Linked DNA regions of Homo sapiens: all the other regions are linked to region 1. The links come from fine-mapping of genetic effects on gene expression. A gene starts in region 1. Each other region holds a variant in brackets. All regions are shown on one strand. Distances are from middle to middle. Region 1 holds the start of AOPEP (aminopeptidase O (putative)). Region 2 overlaps AOPEP (aminopeptidase O (putative)). Region 3 overlaps AOPEP (aminopeptidase O (putative)). Region 4 overlaps AOPEP (aminopeptidase O (putative)).

Region 1 (4,167 bases):
TGAGATGGAGTCTCACTTTGTCACCCAGGCTGGAGCACAGTGGCGTGATGTTGACTCACTGCAACCTCTGCCTCCTGGGTTCAAGCGATTCTCTTGCCTCAGCCTCCTGGGTAGCTGGGATTACAGGCACCCACCACCACGCCCGGCTAATTTTTGTATTTTTAGTAGAGACAGGGTTTCACCTTATTGGTCAGGCTGGTCTTGAACTCCTGACCTTGTGATCTGCCCGCCTCAGTCTCCCAAAGTTCTAGGATTACAGGCGTGAGTCACCATACCCGGCCCTCGATTATCTTTTAAGCAGGGGATCTGACATCACCGGGTCAGCATTCCTGGTTGGCAAAAATCAACAGAGCTGTGGTAGGGACCACGAGCTCCAGATCACCACAGTCTCTATCCCTGGGCTTCACTCCTTTGTGTTAACTGCCCGGCTGCTGTAGGCTTTGGGGTTTGCAGCCTCTGATGGAGCCTAAGAAAGCCAAGGGAAAAAAGAGCTCAGGAAAAGGGAAAGTGGAAGCCAGTGATAGAAACTGAGGAAAGATAGGTGACAGGAGAACCTAGAGGACTGACTTGGAAACAAGCAAAGAAATCAAGTTTGAAAGGAGGTGAAACAAACCTTGTTTTAGCTATATGATCCAGCTATTTGCTTAGGCCCCAAATTTAAGAATTATTTTTGACACTTTTCTTTTCCTTATCTCCCTTATCTAAACTCATCTCCAAGTCTGTCACATCTACCTCAGAATTATTCCTGAAATTTGTCCATTTCTATCATTTCTTACCTGCTCATTGCAAAAGCAACTCTTCTCTTTGCATCCTTTTAAATTGTTTCTCAAAAGTTTCATGTATACACAGCAGCTAGCAGGGTGATGTTATAAAACTAGATCCTGTCACTTACGTGTTGATAACTCTTCACTAGTTTCCCCTTACACTTCGAATAAACTCGTATTCCTCACAGGAACCCAGAGAGTCTGTGCATGATGGGGACTCTCCTTGCCTTCTTGATCTCATCCTCTGTTCTTCCCATGACCTACTTTCTCACTTTCTCCAAGGCACCACATTCTGCCCCTTCCCTATTGCTTGCTCACATGTAGATTCTTCTCTTGGCTGTTCTTTCCTTAGCTCTCCACAGAGTTGGCTGCTTCTCAGTTTACTGAACCTCTTCAGAGGGCACTTTCTTGACATCTCAAATCAAAAGGTCACCTGTCTTCCTTTAATTTCTCAGCAACTTATTTTCCTTCTACTTTTTTTTTTTTTTTTGAGATGGAGTCTCGCTGTCGCCCAGGTTGGAGTGCAGTGGCGCGATCTCGGCTCACTGCAGGCTCCGCCCCCCGGGGTTCCCGCCATTCTCCTGCCTCAGCCTCCCGAGTAGCTGGGACTACAGGCGCCCACCACCTCGCCCGGCTAATTTTTTGTATTTTTAGTAGAGACGGGGTTTCACCGTGTTAGCCAGGATGGTCTCGATCTCCTGACTTTGTGATCCGCCTGCCTCGGCCTCCCAAAGTGCTGGGATTACAAGCGTGAGCCACCGCGCCCGGCCTTTCCTTCTACATTTAATGTTTGCTTTCTCAACTAGAAAGTAATCCCCATGAGGGAAGGCACAGCGTCTGTCTTGTTCCTGGTTGTTTCCCCAGCTTTTGTTAAGGGTGCTTGCCTGGCACACAGGAGGACCTTAAATTGTGGTGGAATTAATATGTGAACAATAGTCACATGCAGCAGAGGTGAGACTAGGCTAAGGAATAAAATTGCACATCTGTATTTCAGTAACTTTTTTTAAATTTTATTTGAAACAGGGTCTTGCTCTGTGGCTCAGGGTGGAGTGTAGTGGCACGTTCATAGCTCATTGCAGCCTCGAACTCCTGGACCTAAGCAATCCTCCTGCCTCAGCCTCCATAGTAGCTGGACCACAGGTGCACGCCACCACACTCGGCTAATTTTTTAATTTTTTTGTAGAGACGGGGCCTCCCCAGGTTGCCCAGGCTGGTGATTTTTTTCTTAAGCTTCATAAAGATTTTGCAATTAGGAATACTAGGGTACCAGGGCAACTCTACAAGCCCTAGCCAGCCAAGCTGCTCGCGCCCTCCTATGACCGCGGCAGCTCCGCGCCTGCGCAGATCTCCCCCGGGCGGTCTCGCCCTCTCATCCTAAGGGGGCGGGCCTAGCGGAAGGCGGGTCAGGCAGAATGCGGCCCCGGGCGCGTGTGGATGACGTCACCCGGCGCGTGCCGGGGTAGCCCGTAGTAACCCCGAGTCTGCGGAAGTGGTGACCCGTGGGACGCGGCTGAGACAGGTAACCTGTTCGCTCCCTGTTGGGTCCCTGCCTTCCTCTCCTCCGGCGTCGGGATGGCGGCGGGGACAGCATCATTCCGTTCTGAAGGCGACGGGGAACCCTCCCTTACCCTCACTTTTGCTCGACCAGCGAGGACCCGCATCCCCTCCTCAGTTCTCCCAGACTCCTGGGGCTGAAACCCATCCTGGGGACTGGGCGGAGCGGTCACATCTTACCACCTCAGCTGTAGAGGTGGCCACGGGCTCTGGCTGTCTTCTCCCCGGCGGCACAGACCTTTCTCAGCCTCTGGGTGCCTCCTCCTTCGTCTCTTGCCTCCAGGCCCTCGGTCACCTGCCGGTCTCGGCTTCTAGCCCCACAGGGCTCATCTCCAGTCTTAAGTAGGCAGAACAGTTTCGATTCGATTCATTTCCACTTGCAGTGAAACCCATCCGCCTCTTCTTCCCCCGGAGGATCTTTACTGAGAGCACCACATTTTGAGTTTTGGGGTCCCTATAGAACATTCATACTGTTAGTCTGGAGTTTTGTTCATGAACGCATGCATGGGCGGGGAGGGGGTGGCACAGTAATGTGATTATGATTATCTATTGTGATAATAAAATATCCACTTAGGATCCAATCCACTGTTGAGATGCATGGAACAGTTAATAGCATTGCATAAAATGCCCCTTGTACCTGATTTCTTTTTGGTTTTCGTGCAATGATGACAATTACCCTTGCAAAGGTAGCCCTCAAAATAAGTAACATAACCCGCTAGGGATGTTTAGATCGCAAAAAAACAACAATAAGGTTCATATGGTTGATAAAGAAATAATATGGGTTATTACAAAACCAGACAGAATAGATGCTGAGTATATGGGACGAGAAGCAGAATTCTGAAATCCTTGATCTCATTGATTGTTTGGTTTTGTATTTTTAAAATACTTTTAGTCTGTTCCATTTTTGAATAGTGTATATTGTGCTTCGTATAAGTCTGGGAAGCCTTCCAATGACTTGCTAATTGGGAAGATTAGATTCTTCCAATATTTGGGGGACAAAGTAGAATAAGGTTAGGGTATAATAATAGTTGCTTACTGTTGGCCCATCTGCTTTATCCCAGGTACTGTGTTCAACACTTTGCATATGTTTTCTCCTTACTTCATACAACCACCTCGTGAGTTAGGAATTATTACCCCCAATTTATAGAGAAGGAAATTGAGTTTCGGTTATATGAAATTGACTTGCTAAAAATTCACAGTTAACTAAATGGCAAAATCAAGATTTAAATTCAGGTCTGAATATAACTTCAAAGCCTGCACTTTTCTTAAAGGACTCTACTAATGCTCAAATTTTAGGCTTTTTACAATAGTTGCACACAATTTTATGAGTTTGTTCACCTACACAAATGATTTAACACTTTTTAATATCTTTAATACTGTGTTAAGTTCCCATATTCCTGGAGTTAAAACACCTGGAAAGCTTAATTTGTGATCCTTCCTGCGTGCGCGCATGCACACACACACACACACACACACACACACACACCATCCTTATTTTTAAGAATGAGATAAATGGCAAACAAGATTGTGCAGTAAAACCCTGCTGTTTGGAGTCCTCAGGGAATGGGTAATTTTACAGTTGAGAGCTTAATACTTCTTTAGAAATGAAAATTTTATTGACTCTTTGAGATGGAAATTTTAAAAATGTACTACACAATTTCTTGCCTTCTTAAACACTCAGGATGCCGAGTAGATTTTTGACCTCACTGTGCCCGGTCGAGGACAGTTCTTCTAAGGAATTTGGCTGTGAGGAGATAAAGAAGAGTTAGAGGGAGATGTGGACTTAAGGGAGGGTTTTGTTCATTTGTGGGTTTTTCCTGTAAGAAGAGACTGGAACATTCACATTTGT
Region 2 (4,167 bases), 28 kb after region 1:
ACAGTGGAATCTTGTATTCAAAGTGTTAATTAAAAATAACTATCAACAAAAGTTCTACACTTAGTTAAGTGGTCATTCAGTAGAGAGGATGTAATACAGACATTTTCAAACATACAACTGTTAAAAGAGTTTGTTACCCATGGACTCCTCCTAAAATAATTACTAAAGATAAACTTAAGTAAAAAGGAAATTGTGGCAGATTGTATTTTCCAAAAATGGCCATAACAATATCTACCATCTTCCATGCTTTTCTACAGTATACCTTGCTACTCCCCCATCAAAAGATGGAGTCTAATCCCCTCTCCTTGAATCTGGATTGGCCTTATGAGTTTGCACCTGAAAGCAATAGACTATGGTAGCAATAATAACCATGTTGACTTTGAGGCTCGGTCAGAAAAGGCCATGCAGTTTTCAACTGGTACTTTGAGATGCTCGTGCTGGGGGCTGCCAGCTACCATAGAAGATGTACAGCCATTCCAAAAGCTCAGTGTTAAATAAGCTTTATTTAAATAAACTTATTTAAGTAAGTTTAAATAAGCGGCCTTTCTGGGCATCAGACCCTCCAGACAAGTCCATCCTCCAACTGAGTACCATTGAGTAACATAGACAGATTCATAAGATGTAGAAGAGTGGCCCAGCTGACTGTTACCCACATTCATGACCTATAGAATATAATAAAATGGTTGCTGTTTGAAGCTACAAAGTTAATTTGTCATGCAACAAGTAGAATAAAATTGGACCCAGAAGGAAGGAGTGGAATGTATAAATTATCAGGAGTAAGGAAGCTGGTGAATATATTTGTAAATACAAATAAATATTGACTTTAAAAAAGTTGGATGGAGTTTTAACAAACAATGTGATACTAAAATAATAGCAACAATAATATGGAAGCTGTTATGGAGTAAGGAAGAGGAAGACTGGTTATAAAACTTTCTAAGGTCCTTATATTGTTTGGAAGGTTATTCGAGATTGACTTTAGGCATATTAAAGGCATTGATTGTGTAAGTTATGAAACAGTGGAGGGGAAAACAGGAATGTAGAAAAATTCAATAAAAAGCAGAAAAATAAAGCTAAGAAGCAAAGAAAATCATGGGCGATAGAAAACATAAAATATGTTGATTGAGATGGTGCTGTTACAACTGTAATTGTGATAAATGTAAAGAAATTCATTTCAGTCATTAAAAATGATAATTATATTTTTTAAATAGCCAGCCAAATGTTGTTTTAAAAAGACAGCCAAGGCAAAAAGAGTCCAGAGCAGTTAAAAATGAAGGGATTGAAAAGATGTGCCGGGAAAAAGCAAACCAAAAGAAAGTAGGTATGACAGTATTAACATCAGGCAAAACGGAATTTCTAGACATCTCGTGTTTTCTTCTCAGGATACACCTGTGCCTCTTTTTATGCCACATCTTTTTACTTGCATGTGTGCAGCTAGGAGATGTGCGTAAGGAGGCTCATTTCAGCATTGTTTGCAATCAAGAAAATTTTCAAATAACTATCAGTAGGGGAACGTATGGATACATTATAGAATATTCCTGTGGGGGCATTAAACAGCAGTTAAAAGAGACAGATTTATATACATCAACATGTCTATATTTCAAAACCATTGAGTGAAAGAAGTTGCAGAGTAATATGTCAGTGTGACATTTATAAACACAAAACAGTATATTTGAACTTCTAAGTTTCCTTCTAATTCTGAAATTATTGAATTTCACAGTAGTAAGCTATGTTCCTGTGACTATATGCATTTGAGTGTGTGAAGAATTGTGCCCAGAAACAGTGTATTTCAGCAAATACACTGACTGTTATTAAGAGCAATTGGCATATCCTAAATAATGGACACACCTGGAATAGCAGAAAGCTGTCATTCTCTGATCAAGTAATCGGTGGAATTAAATAGTAACTACTCAACAGTGTGCTCTATGCTATAGAATGAGCATATGTGCAAAAATAATTTCTCCTTTCCCCCAGTTGCTTACAAGTAAAAAGATGAGGCATAAAAAGAGGCACAGGTGTATCCTGAGAAGAAAAAATGAGATGTCTGGAGGGAGATGTTAGTTAAGCAATAACTTAGCACTAGACTATAGAGTACAGGCAAGCTAGAATCCCTGTTGTATAAGTAACTAGACATTGAAATCACAAATACCTTTGGATGGCAATTCCACAAATATTTATTGAGAACCTGCTGTGTTGAGGATACTCCACTTAACCTGGTCATGAACACAAAAATGATTCAGGAGTTACAGGGAATTTTTAGAGCATTGGAGGATGGAAGTAACTATAAAATGAGCCAGGATAAGTTAGAATCGTGAGGATACACGTTGCTTTGTAGCTTGAAAGGAGAATGAAATTGTTTTCGTTGGGGTGATTGGGGATGGCGTTACAGAGGTTATATCCCACATTTGTAAATGGGTGCATTCCACTTTGGATGGCTGAGAATGGCAGAGCAG[T/C]TTCTTCTTTGTGCCATAGCTCTGTTTAGTATGTGATCCTCTTCCCCCTTAAGAAAAATATTACTGTACGCTAATCCTTTCAAAGCCTTTAATGGTGCTGCTGAGACAATCATTTAAGCATTTAAAATACATACCACATAGCACACTTATTTTTTCTTTTTTTTTTAGCACACTTATTTTAGACACAGCAATGGTTAGCCACTGGAAAACTAACCACTGGTTTTTATAAGGGGGGACCTTTGTATGTTATGGCTTATGACAGAGAATGGAAAAATGCTTCAGTGAGACAGGCTGGCATTTTGAATTGGAGCACAGTAATAGCCAAAAGTGCTGAAGTCAACGGACTGCTTAGAAATATGGTTTCCATTTGCTGAGAGAGGCCTTGCAAGGTGGCCACATACATGCATTTGCAACCACAGGCAGTTCAGTTTTTCCCTAAATGTGGGGCTGTGACCCTGATTGATGTCAGTGAGCGTTACGTACTTGCAGAGAGAAAGATGATTTAGGTCATCCATGAATCTAAGACAAGTAAGACATAGACAAATAAGCAACAACTTAATAGACTTATATATAATTTAGGTTGGAAATCATGCAGAAGTGACAGTGCTCTTCAGAATCTTCTGGGGCTGGCTTAAAAGTTCTCCTTTGCCCCCCAAAGCTATTACAATAAGAATTGGTTACTAGTCTGCATAACTTGAAGAAGATAAAGAAGGTCAAAGGAAGATGTGGAAAAGAGACTTAGAGGTGACATTTGATTTATGACTTAGACAATATGAAGGAGATGGCCATGAGACCTGGGAGATGAGAATTCCAAGGAAAAGCATCAGCAAGTGGGAAATGTTCTGTTAGTGGCAAACAAAAAGAAATGGGTGACCTTGAGCAAATTACTTTGCCTCTCTGGGACCCACTGTCTTCATTTGTAAAATTAGAGAGTTGGATTCAGTGAGCCCTAAGGAATTTTTCAGCTCCAAAGTTCAATAAAATAAAGATGACTTAAAGTAGGCCAAATGAAGTTGTTGATTGTTTTTAAAGATGGCAACCCTAGGCCAGGCAGGGTGGCTCACGCCTGTGATCCCAGCACTTTGGGAGGCCGAGGCAGGCAGATCACGAGGTCAGGAGATCAAGACCATCCTGGCTAACATGGTGAAACCCTGTCTCTACCAAAAATACAAAAAAATTAGCCGGGTGTGGTGGCGGGCACCTGTAGTCCCAGCTACTTGGGAGGCTGAGGCAGGAGAATGGCGTGAACCAGGGAGGCGGAGCTTACAGTGAGCTGAGATTGTGCCACTGGGTGACAGAGCAAGACTCTGTCTCAAAAAAAAAAAAAAAGATGGCAACCCTAAGGTTGGCTTAGGTGTGATGGCTCACACCTGTAATCCCAGCACTTTGGGAGGCTGAGGTGGGCAGATCGCCTGAGCTGAAGAGTTCAAGACCAGCCTGGGCAACATGGCAAGACCTCGTCTCTACAAAAATTTAAAAAGTTAGATGAGTGTGGTGGCATGCACCTATGGTCCCAGCTACTTGGGAGGCTGAGGAAGGAGGATCGCTTGAGCCCGCAACCCTAGGGATGTTTGAATGTTCAGAATAGGGTGTAATCATTGAAGGGGAGAAAATGTTGGCAAGAGAAAAATGTCAAATGAAACAGGGTTCAAGTAAGTGGAAGGGGATGGTGTTGAGAGAACACTTCTTCCCCACTTCTCATGTTTCCTTCCTTGTT
Region 3 (4,167 bases), 150 kb after region 1:
AAAGTCTTGATCTGTGATCTTGGGAAAGCTGTCCGCATCTAGGATGCTGTCCACTTTCGGGGAGAAGTATTCCTGGTCAGCTTTACCTTAAAGTCTCCAACAGGTGTTCTAAGAGTCTGAAGGGGCCCTTTTGTGTTGTGAGATGTGGACCCAAGGTTACAGGTGTGGGTGTGAGAAGAACTTGGTGTGGTCCTTTCCAACAGGGTTCAAGGGCAGTCTTCCTCTGATGTTATTTCCCGAAGACCCAATTTCCAGGCTCTAGACCATGAAGGATTTGATTGTACTTAGTCAGTGGATCACAAAAAGCTTCCTGTACCTGGTAAAAATACACTTTGGCATAATGCATTAAAACCTTGCGTTATTTAGTCATATCAGAGTTTAGGAGAGTGGAACATCCATTAGGTTCTACTATTAGGGGCATACGTTTCCAGTGACTATTTCATAAGGGGCCAACTTATGTTTTCCAGTGGGAGTGGATCTGATTGCCATTTAATGCCAACAGTAGTACCTTTGGCCAAGACAACCCAATTGGCTCAGCTAACTTTGCCAATTTCAGTTTTAAGATACCATTTGTTCTTTCAGCCTTTCTGTAACTGCCCAGTGGGTTCCCCTTGCCCACTGCCTAGACAGAGCTGATTTATCAAGACAGGGGAATTGCAATAGAGAAAGAGTAATTCACGCAGAGCTGGCTTTGTGGGAGACCGGAGTTTTATTATTACTCAAATCAGTTTCCTCAGCATTCGAGGATCAGAGTTTTTAAGGGTAATTGGGTGGGTGGAAGAACTCAGCTGTCTTCTTGTGCTGAGTCAGTTCCTGGGTGGGGACCACAAGATCAGATGAGCCAGTTTATCAATCTGGGTGGTGACAGCTGATCCAGGGTCTGCAAAATATCTCAAGCACTGATCTTAGGAGCAGTTTAGGGAGGGTTGGAATCTTGTAGCCTCCAGCTGTATGACTCCTAAACTACAATTTCTAATCTTCAGGCTAATTTATTAGTCCTAAAAAGGCCGTCTAGTACCCAGGCAAGAAGGAGGTTTGTTTTGGGAAAGGGTTGTTAGCATCTTTGTTTTAAACTATAAACTAAGTAATTCCCAAAGTTAGTTCAGCATATGTGCAGGAATGAACAAGGACAGCTTGGAGGTTAGAAACAAGATGGAGTTGGTTAGCTCAGATCTCTTTCACTGTCTCAGTTATAATTTTGCAAGTGTGGTTTCATTTCCAGAAGACTGAGGGTGATAAAGGCAATGGTAGTATCACTGCATCCACAACACCTTATTTAACTGCTTTTAACTTACCCAGTAAAATGAGTTTCCCTATCTATAGCTGGAGATTTCTCCAGGAATACCCCATAAAGGAAAAACATTTTCTAATAATTTCTTAGCTGCTGGCACAGCACCAGCTTTTCTACAAAGAAAGACTCGATTTGACCAGAAAACATACAAACTATTACAAAAACTGATACCTCAGCAAGGGCGATAACTGAATAAAGTCCATTTGTAAATGTTCAAATGGTCCATCAGATGGTGGAAATATACTATCTGAAGTTTTTATTGTTTTCCTCGGATTATGAGTTTGGTAAATCAAACATTGGTTGTAACCCATTTTAGCAGTTTTGGAACATATACCTCACCAATTTTTTTTATAATTTGGATCATTTTGTGTGTTCCATGATGAGTTGTGGAGTGCAGGCCTTTTAACAACGGAAGCTTTAAAGACTCAGGAAGGACCAAGTGGTTGTCAGGCCCTTTGTGAATCCACGCTTAACATTGAATTTACATTTTTTTAGATACCAACTTTGTTTTTCCAAATTAAATGCATTGCACTGTTTATTAAATAGATCACCGTATGGGAGTTGATTTGGATCAGTCTTATGGAGTTCATTCAGATTGCATATTCTCACAGTGTCAGCACTAGCTGATTTAAC[A/G]TGCACATCGGCTAGGGCATTCCTTTGATATTCAGATTCAGTTTTACAGGTATCATCTTCAATCTTAATCATAACGATCTGTGATGATAACAGTGTTAACAGGATAGCTGAAAGGAGTTCATCTAACTGGAGTCCCAATAGAAGTGAGAAACCCCTATTGTTTATTTTTTAATAATGTAATTTTTATTATGCATATTTGTCTTTTTTTTTCTTTTTCTTTTTCTTTTTTTCTTTTCTTTTTTTTTTTTTAGACAGGGTCTCTCTCTGTTGCCCAGGCTGGAGTGCCATGGCGTGACCATGGCTCACTGCAGCGTCGACCTCCCAGGCTCAACCCATCCTCCCACCTCAGCCCCCAGAGTAGCTGGGACTACAGGCGCAAGTCACCATGCCAAGATAATTTGTAGAGAAGGGGTTTTGCCATGTTGCCCAGGCTGGTTTTGAACTTCTGGGCTCAAGCAGTCTGCCTGCCTTGGCATCCCAAAGTGTTGGGATTACAGGCATGAGCCATCGCACCTGGTCCCATTGTTTCCATAATGTGCCAAAATTGTGTACTACTCTAAAAGCATATCTGCTATCTTTTTAAATATTTACTGACGTGTCCTTAACTATATGACAAGCTTGGGTGGGAGCAAAAAGCTCTGCCAGCTGAGCGGACTTAAATTGAGGAAGAGTTCCCTTCTCTATTAACTCATTTTGGGCAGTAACAACATACCCTGCCTGATATTTTCCTTCTGAGACTTTGGCATAGGACCCACGAACAAAAAGTATCAACTCAGGATTATCCAATGGAGCATCTCATAAATCAACACAAGGGGCTACTAGTTTGGATACTACACCTACACAATTGTGATCTTTACCACAGTCAGTCAGAGGTAATGGAGTAGCAGGGTTAAGTAGGTTTTAGATGGAGTAGCATTTTAGATGGAGGTCAGAAGGAGGCAGGAGAAAATTTCATAAGATCATAAGATGTTAGTTTTCTTGCTGAAAAATGCTGAGCTTGGTTGGAATTTAATAGACTTTCCACAGCATGTGGAATTTGCAAATTAAGTTCATTCCCTAAAACCAGCTCAGATGAAACTTGTAGCAACTTGGTGGCTGCTGCTGCTTCTATTTTTTTTTTTTTTTTAAGACACAGGATCTGTCTTAGGCTTCCTTTAGTGGTGAAACAGTGTGGCCTAATGGGAGGAGGCTTATTGGTAGACTAACAGAGAAGCAGACAACTCTTTTCCAGTGTCCTGCTTATTTGCAAGGAAGGCAGACATCTCGGGGAAAAGAATTTCTTGTTCTAGGATCTATCTCTTGGTTGTGATTTAAAATAAAAAAGAAGGTTCCTTTGGTCTCAGCCCCTGTAACTGTTGTAATTGGTGAGACATAAGCTTGGTAGTCTTTTGGGTTTTTTCTTGCTCCAGAGTCCTCTCAAAATGTTCAGCTAAGGCCACCAATTCAGTCATGTCTGTAACTTCCCATCCAGGTTTATGTTTTTTTAATTAAACTGCTAAGTTTGGGACAGAGTCCATTTATAAATAGAGTAGTTGATGCAGTTCCTGCAGGAAATATTCCTTGCTGTTATTTTGAGCCCCAAATGCTTCACAAGCAGTGTTTCTAAGTGAGTTCTGTCGTCCGAAACTTCTTTTGTCTGTATGGTGGACCAGTCAATTTTTTTGTGTGGAAAAATCTTAGGAATTGAATCTAAAATGATTTTGGCAATGTTTCTAGCTTATTTCAGCCATTCCTGTGAGGGGGTTTTGGAGGGGTCTTTAATACCCTCCTCAGGTTGGCTCCATTCTGCAGCTGTCACTCATTTTCAAGCTTCCACAGGTCCCAGTATCATGTGAATAAACTGGTAAAGGTCAGGGAGTCCTGGATTGTAAGCTCTTATGAGTAAATTTTTGAGGACTTCCCCTTGGGCTAGGGAGTCCTTTACTATGGCTCTAAGCTCAGCTTTAGAACATGGAGTGAAGGTGGTTATGGCGGGAAGGCCTGGCTGATCACAAGCTCTTACTTTGTAAGACATCTGTCCAACTTCTCTTTTTTCGTCATCTTTAAAGGGTGAAAGGGTAATTTGACTAGAAGATTAGTGGAGCAAATTATTTAGGTAGAGATGGGTAAAGAGAGGAAACAGGGTTATTTCAGAGTACAGTCCTCTTTCGTCATGTTCTTAGTCTGTTGTTTAAAATGTTTGCTTGCTTTTTGCAAAGAATCATTTAAGGAGGCAATTTTTAATTTGTTTAGCCTTTTAGATG
Region 4 (4,167 bases), 39 kb after region 1:
TTTTTAAATTAGACAAATATAAGAAAATCTGTAAATTGGTACCTTTTCTTTTAAGTTCCATTAGTGGCTTCCCCATTTCCCACCTGTACTGTATCCCAGCTGAGAATAAAACTTGTATCAAAATGAAATAGCTTAATATTGATATGGATGGTTGCATATGGAAATAATTACAGATATGTGTGTTTCCAAGGGTTAGTGTGTGTGTGTGTGTTTGTGTATACACACACTGTATCTTGGCTTGTCAGCTGAGAGGGTCTTAGAAGTAAGCACACCTAGCACCCAGATCTTAGTTTCTGATACCATTTTCCAATGAAGAGAACTAGGACTTCTTGGAGAAATGTCCAGAACAGGGGCAGGAAATATACAAGATGAGTCTGGAGCATCTTGTAATGTCAGAAAGTAAGGAAGCCCTCAAACAGCAGGAACAACAACCCACAGCGATGGGGGTATGCCAGAGGGACAAGGGGCCGTCCGAAAGAGCTCCTCATGCCCCAAGCCAAGCAACAAAACATATCAAGTAGTTTCGAATGACATCCAAAAGTATGAAATAGCCATTAGTCCAGCTGATGTGAATAAACGATTGAATAAATAAACAAATGAGGAAGAATAGACAAATCCATGGTGCAAAACAATTCCAAGTTAGTTGTGGACATGTTCTGTCCTCAAGGAGGTGGGGCATAACTCCTCACTCCTTAAGTGTGGACTATACAGTCAGTGACTCCCTGCCGAAGAGAACAGAATGGAAAGGGAGAAAGAAGTAACTTTACACTAGAGAAATCTGACAATACTACCTCAGCAAGATGATCAAGGTCAATATCAATAGTGATAATTTATGGGGATAGTTTATTCTCTGGTATGATATGATGAAAATGGCATCTTTGTGGTCTTCCTCGCAAAAGCTCTTAACTCCAATCTAATCATGAGAAAAGCATCAGATACATCCCAGTCAAGGGACATTAAACACAATACCTGATCAGCACTTCTGAAAACGAATAAGGTCAGCGTAAAGTCTAAGAAACTGCCACAGTCAAGAGGAGCCTGAGGAGACATGATGATTAAAAGCAATGTGGTGTCCTGGCCGGGTGCAGTGGCTCACACCTGTAATCCTAGCACTTTGGGAGGCCGAGGTGGGCAGATCACTTGAGGCCAGGAGTTCGAGACCAGCCTGGCCAACATGGCGAAACCCCATCTTTACTAAAAATACAAAAAGTTAGCTGGGCATGGTGGCAGGCACCTGTAGTCCCAGCCACTTGGGAGGCTGAGGTGGGAGGATCACTTGAGCCCAGAAGGTCAAGGCTGCAGTCAGTTGTCTTTGTGCTACTGCACTCCAGCCTGGGTGATAGAGCGTGACTGTGTCTCAAAAATAAAATAAAATAAATAAAATAAAAGTAATGTAGTATCCTGAAACAGAAAAAAGACATTGAGGAAAAACTAAAGAAAGCTGAATGAAGTGTGTAAATGTATCAGTATTGGTTCACTCCTTGTGACAAGCATACTAATATAAGATGCCAGTAATAGGGAAAGCTGAGTATGGAGTATATGGAAACTCTGTATATTATCTTTGTGATTTTTATTTTTAGTTTTTATTTTATTATTATTTTATAAGACAGGGTCTCACTCTGTCACCCAGGGTGGAGAGCAGTGGCATGAACTTGGCTCACCAAGTTCTTTCTACCCTGAAATCTCTTTTGTAAGAGCTGTTTTCTCACTTTACCATGTGGCAGGGTTCTCTGGAGAAGAAAATATATTTGTAGTCTCAATCTCCTTGGCTGAAACGATCCTTCCACCTCAGCCTTCCAAGTAGCTGGGACTACAGGTGTGCAGCACCACGCCCAGCTAATTTTTGTATTTTTTTGTAGAGACAGGGTTTTGCTATGTTGCCCAGGCTGGTCTCGAACTCCTGGGCCCAAGCATTCCTCCCACCTCAGCCTCCCAAAGTGCTGGGATTA[T/C]AGGCATGAGCCACTGACTGCGCCCAGCCTTATCTTTTCAATTTTTAAAATCTAAAACTGTTTTAATATAAAAAAATATATGCCAGATGTGGTGGCTCATGCCTATAATTCTAGCACTTTGGAAGACAGAGGCAGGAGGATAGCTTGAGTTGAGGAGTTCAAGACCAGCCTGGGCAACATGGTGAAACCCCTTCTCTACAAAAATAATAATAATAATAATAATAATAATAATAATAATAATAAGTCACAGCTACTTGGGAGGCTGAGGTGGGAGTATTACTTGAGCCCAGGGAGGTCGAGGCTGCAGTGGGTCATGTTTGTGCCACTGCACTCCAGCCTGGGCGACAGAGTGAGACCCCGTCTTGAAAAAAAATTATTAAAAAGATAACTTCAAATTTGGAGATTTCTACCCTGAAATCTCTTTTGTAAGAGCTGTTTTCCCACTTTACCATGTGGCAGGGTTCTCTGGAGAAGAAAACATATTTGAAGCTGTAAAGGAGTATTTATTATGAATGATTACCAATAATTTTATCATTATTATTCTACTTCTAATATGAAATATCTGGAAATAGAAAACTCAATTTTCCTACCTTAGTTTAGCCATTTGGGAGTTGTGCCAGTTGTTGAACCTAAATGCTTCTTGCCTGTATCATTCAGATACTGGATTGTAGGTGACATTTAAAATGACTGATGGAAGGAATACATATATAACAATCAGATACAATGTGCTTCTTGGAAAAGATGTTTGCTTTTCTGTGGTACGCGGGTCTGTGTGCCCTTTAAAAATATTTTGATGAGAACAAAGACAGGGTCAAGAGTTGTGTAAAGGTGTTCTTGCCAAGCTTCAAGAAAGGAATGGGACTTAATATGTTTTTAATTCTAGATCTTTGGTATACGTAAGAAATAAACTTTTAAAATGGAAACCTTTATTCAAAGTTGATGTGTTTTCTTCATTTTCCTTGTATTTTTAACATTTTTTCTATTCCCCTGAAGAAAACGTTATTTAAAACTGAAGCATTGGCCCGGTGCAGCGGCTCACGCGTGTAATCCCAGCACTTTGGGAGGCCGAGGCGGGTGAATCACAAGGTCAGGAGATCGAGACCATCCTGGCTGATGAGGTGAAACCCCGTCTCTACTAAAATACAAAAAATTAGCCGGGCGTGGTGGCGGGCGCCCGTTGTCCCAGCTACTTGGGAGGCTGAGGCAGGGGAATGGCGTGAACCCAGGAGGCGGAGCTTGCAGTGAGCTGAGATCGCGCCACTGCACTCCAGCCTGGGCGACAGAGCGAGACTCCATCTCAAAACAAAACAAAACAAACTGAAGCATTCTCTTTGATAACCCATTCTCTTTTTCGTTAGAATCATTATAATAGTTGTGGAAGCAGTCAAGTGGTTTAGGAGGTCTGAGCTTAAGCTGATGACATCACTGAATTTGAATTGAATGGAGGAAAATTCGGTTATGTATAGGAAATTTATTAGAAAAACTATAGCTATTTGGATTTTTGTTAAAGATAAGAGAGCTAACTGGGAAAATACATTATAAGATAAAGTAATATTAACATTTAAACTTTTGTAAAACATTGTGATTTTTTTGTTTGTTTGTTTTAGACAAGACTGGGATGAAGTTAGCAAAATCCTAAGGAGAACTACTTTTTTCTGTAATATTTCTTGCTCAGCTATTGGGCCAGGGAAGATGTAGACTTTGGGAGTATTTTTAGTTTGGAGTATCAAAACCAGATGTTAAAACATGTTCTTCCTCCCCCCTCCCCCCACTGAATTAATTTCATTATTTTATATCTCACTCTAAAGGAAAGTTTTAAAATTAAAAGAATGAGCAGAAGATGTTTTGGGAGAGATTTCAGGTCTAAGAGGAACATTTCCACAATTAGCACCTTTTTTTCCCCTTACTTTCTTCAAGAAACCAATGCAAAATTTATGAGAACTAAAGTGGAATACACATTAATTCTATGATATTGTATGACTGCAGAGTCGGAATCATGAGTGAAAATGCTTGGAAGGGTCGTGTTTTAGCTTCTTTCTCTCTTTGCTGCCCAGGCTGTGCATATGTCTATTTCCCAGAATCCCAGTTGAGTCACCATGGAAGAAAATACAAGGATGGACTGTATCAGTCTCAACAAGTAACCAACATAACCAACCGAATGAGAAATAAGTAACAAAGCATCTACAGAAAATAACAAATCGCAGTGCCCCGTATCACC

What was found. PIP is the estimated chance that this variant, and not a neighbour inherited with it, causes the effect.
Region 2: its variant is the best candidate, but not a certain one, in a credible set for the expression of AOPEP in whole blood (INTERVAL, PIP 0.82).
Region 3: its variant is the best candidate, but not a certain one, in a credible set for the expression of AOPEP in fibroblasts (GTEx, PIP 0.68).
Region 4: its variant is the best candidate, but not a certain one, in a credible set for the expression of AOPEP in whole blood (INTERVAL, PIP 0.59).

What each region holds. Positions count from the first base shown.
Region 1 is chr9:94,724,469-94,728,635 of GRCh38, forward strand. It overlaps AOPEP (aminopeptidase O (putative)), which reads left to right and starts at 2,231. Exons shown (of 17, transcript NM_001193329.3): 1 at 2,231-2,283. RefSeq lists enhancers at 1,843-2,012, 1,958-2,500, 2,023-2,502.
Region 2 is chr9:94,752,484-94,756,650 of GRCh38, forward strand. The region is part of intron 1 of AOPEP (aminopeptidase O (putative)); the gene reads left to right. Among named protein-coding and RNA genes, the nearest start is that of AOPEP, 28 kb to the left of the region's middle. The variant T/C (reference allele first, on the strand shown) is at 2,451.
Region 3 is chr9:94,878,213-94,882,379 of GRCh38, forward strand. All of the region lies in intron 5 of AOPEP (aminopeptidase O (putative)), which reads left to right. Among named protein-coding and RNA genes, the nearest start is that of AOPEP-AS1, 65 kb to the right of the region's middle. The variant A/G (reference allele first, on the strand shown) is at 1,925.
Region 4 is chr9:94,763,289-94,767,455 of GRCh38, forward strand. The region is part of intron 2 of AOPEP (aminopeptidase O (putative)); the gene reads left to right. Among named protein-coding and RNA genes, the nearest start is that of AOPEP, 39 kb to the left of the region's middle. The variant T/C (reference allele first, on the strand shown) is at 1,950.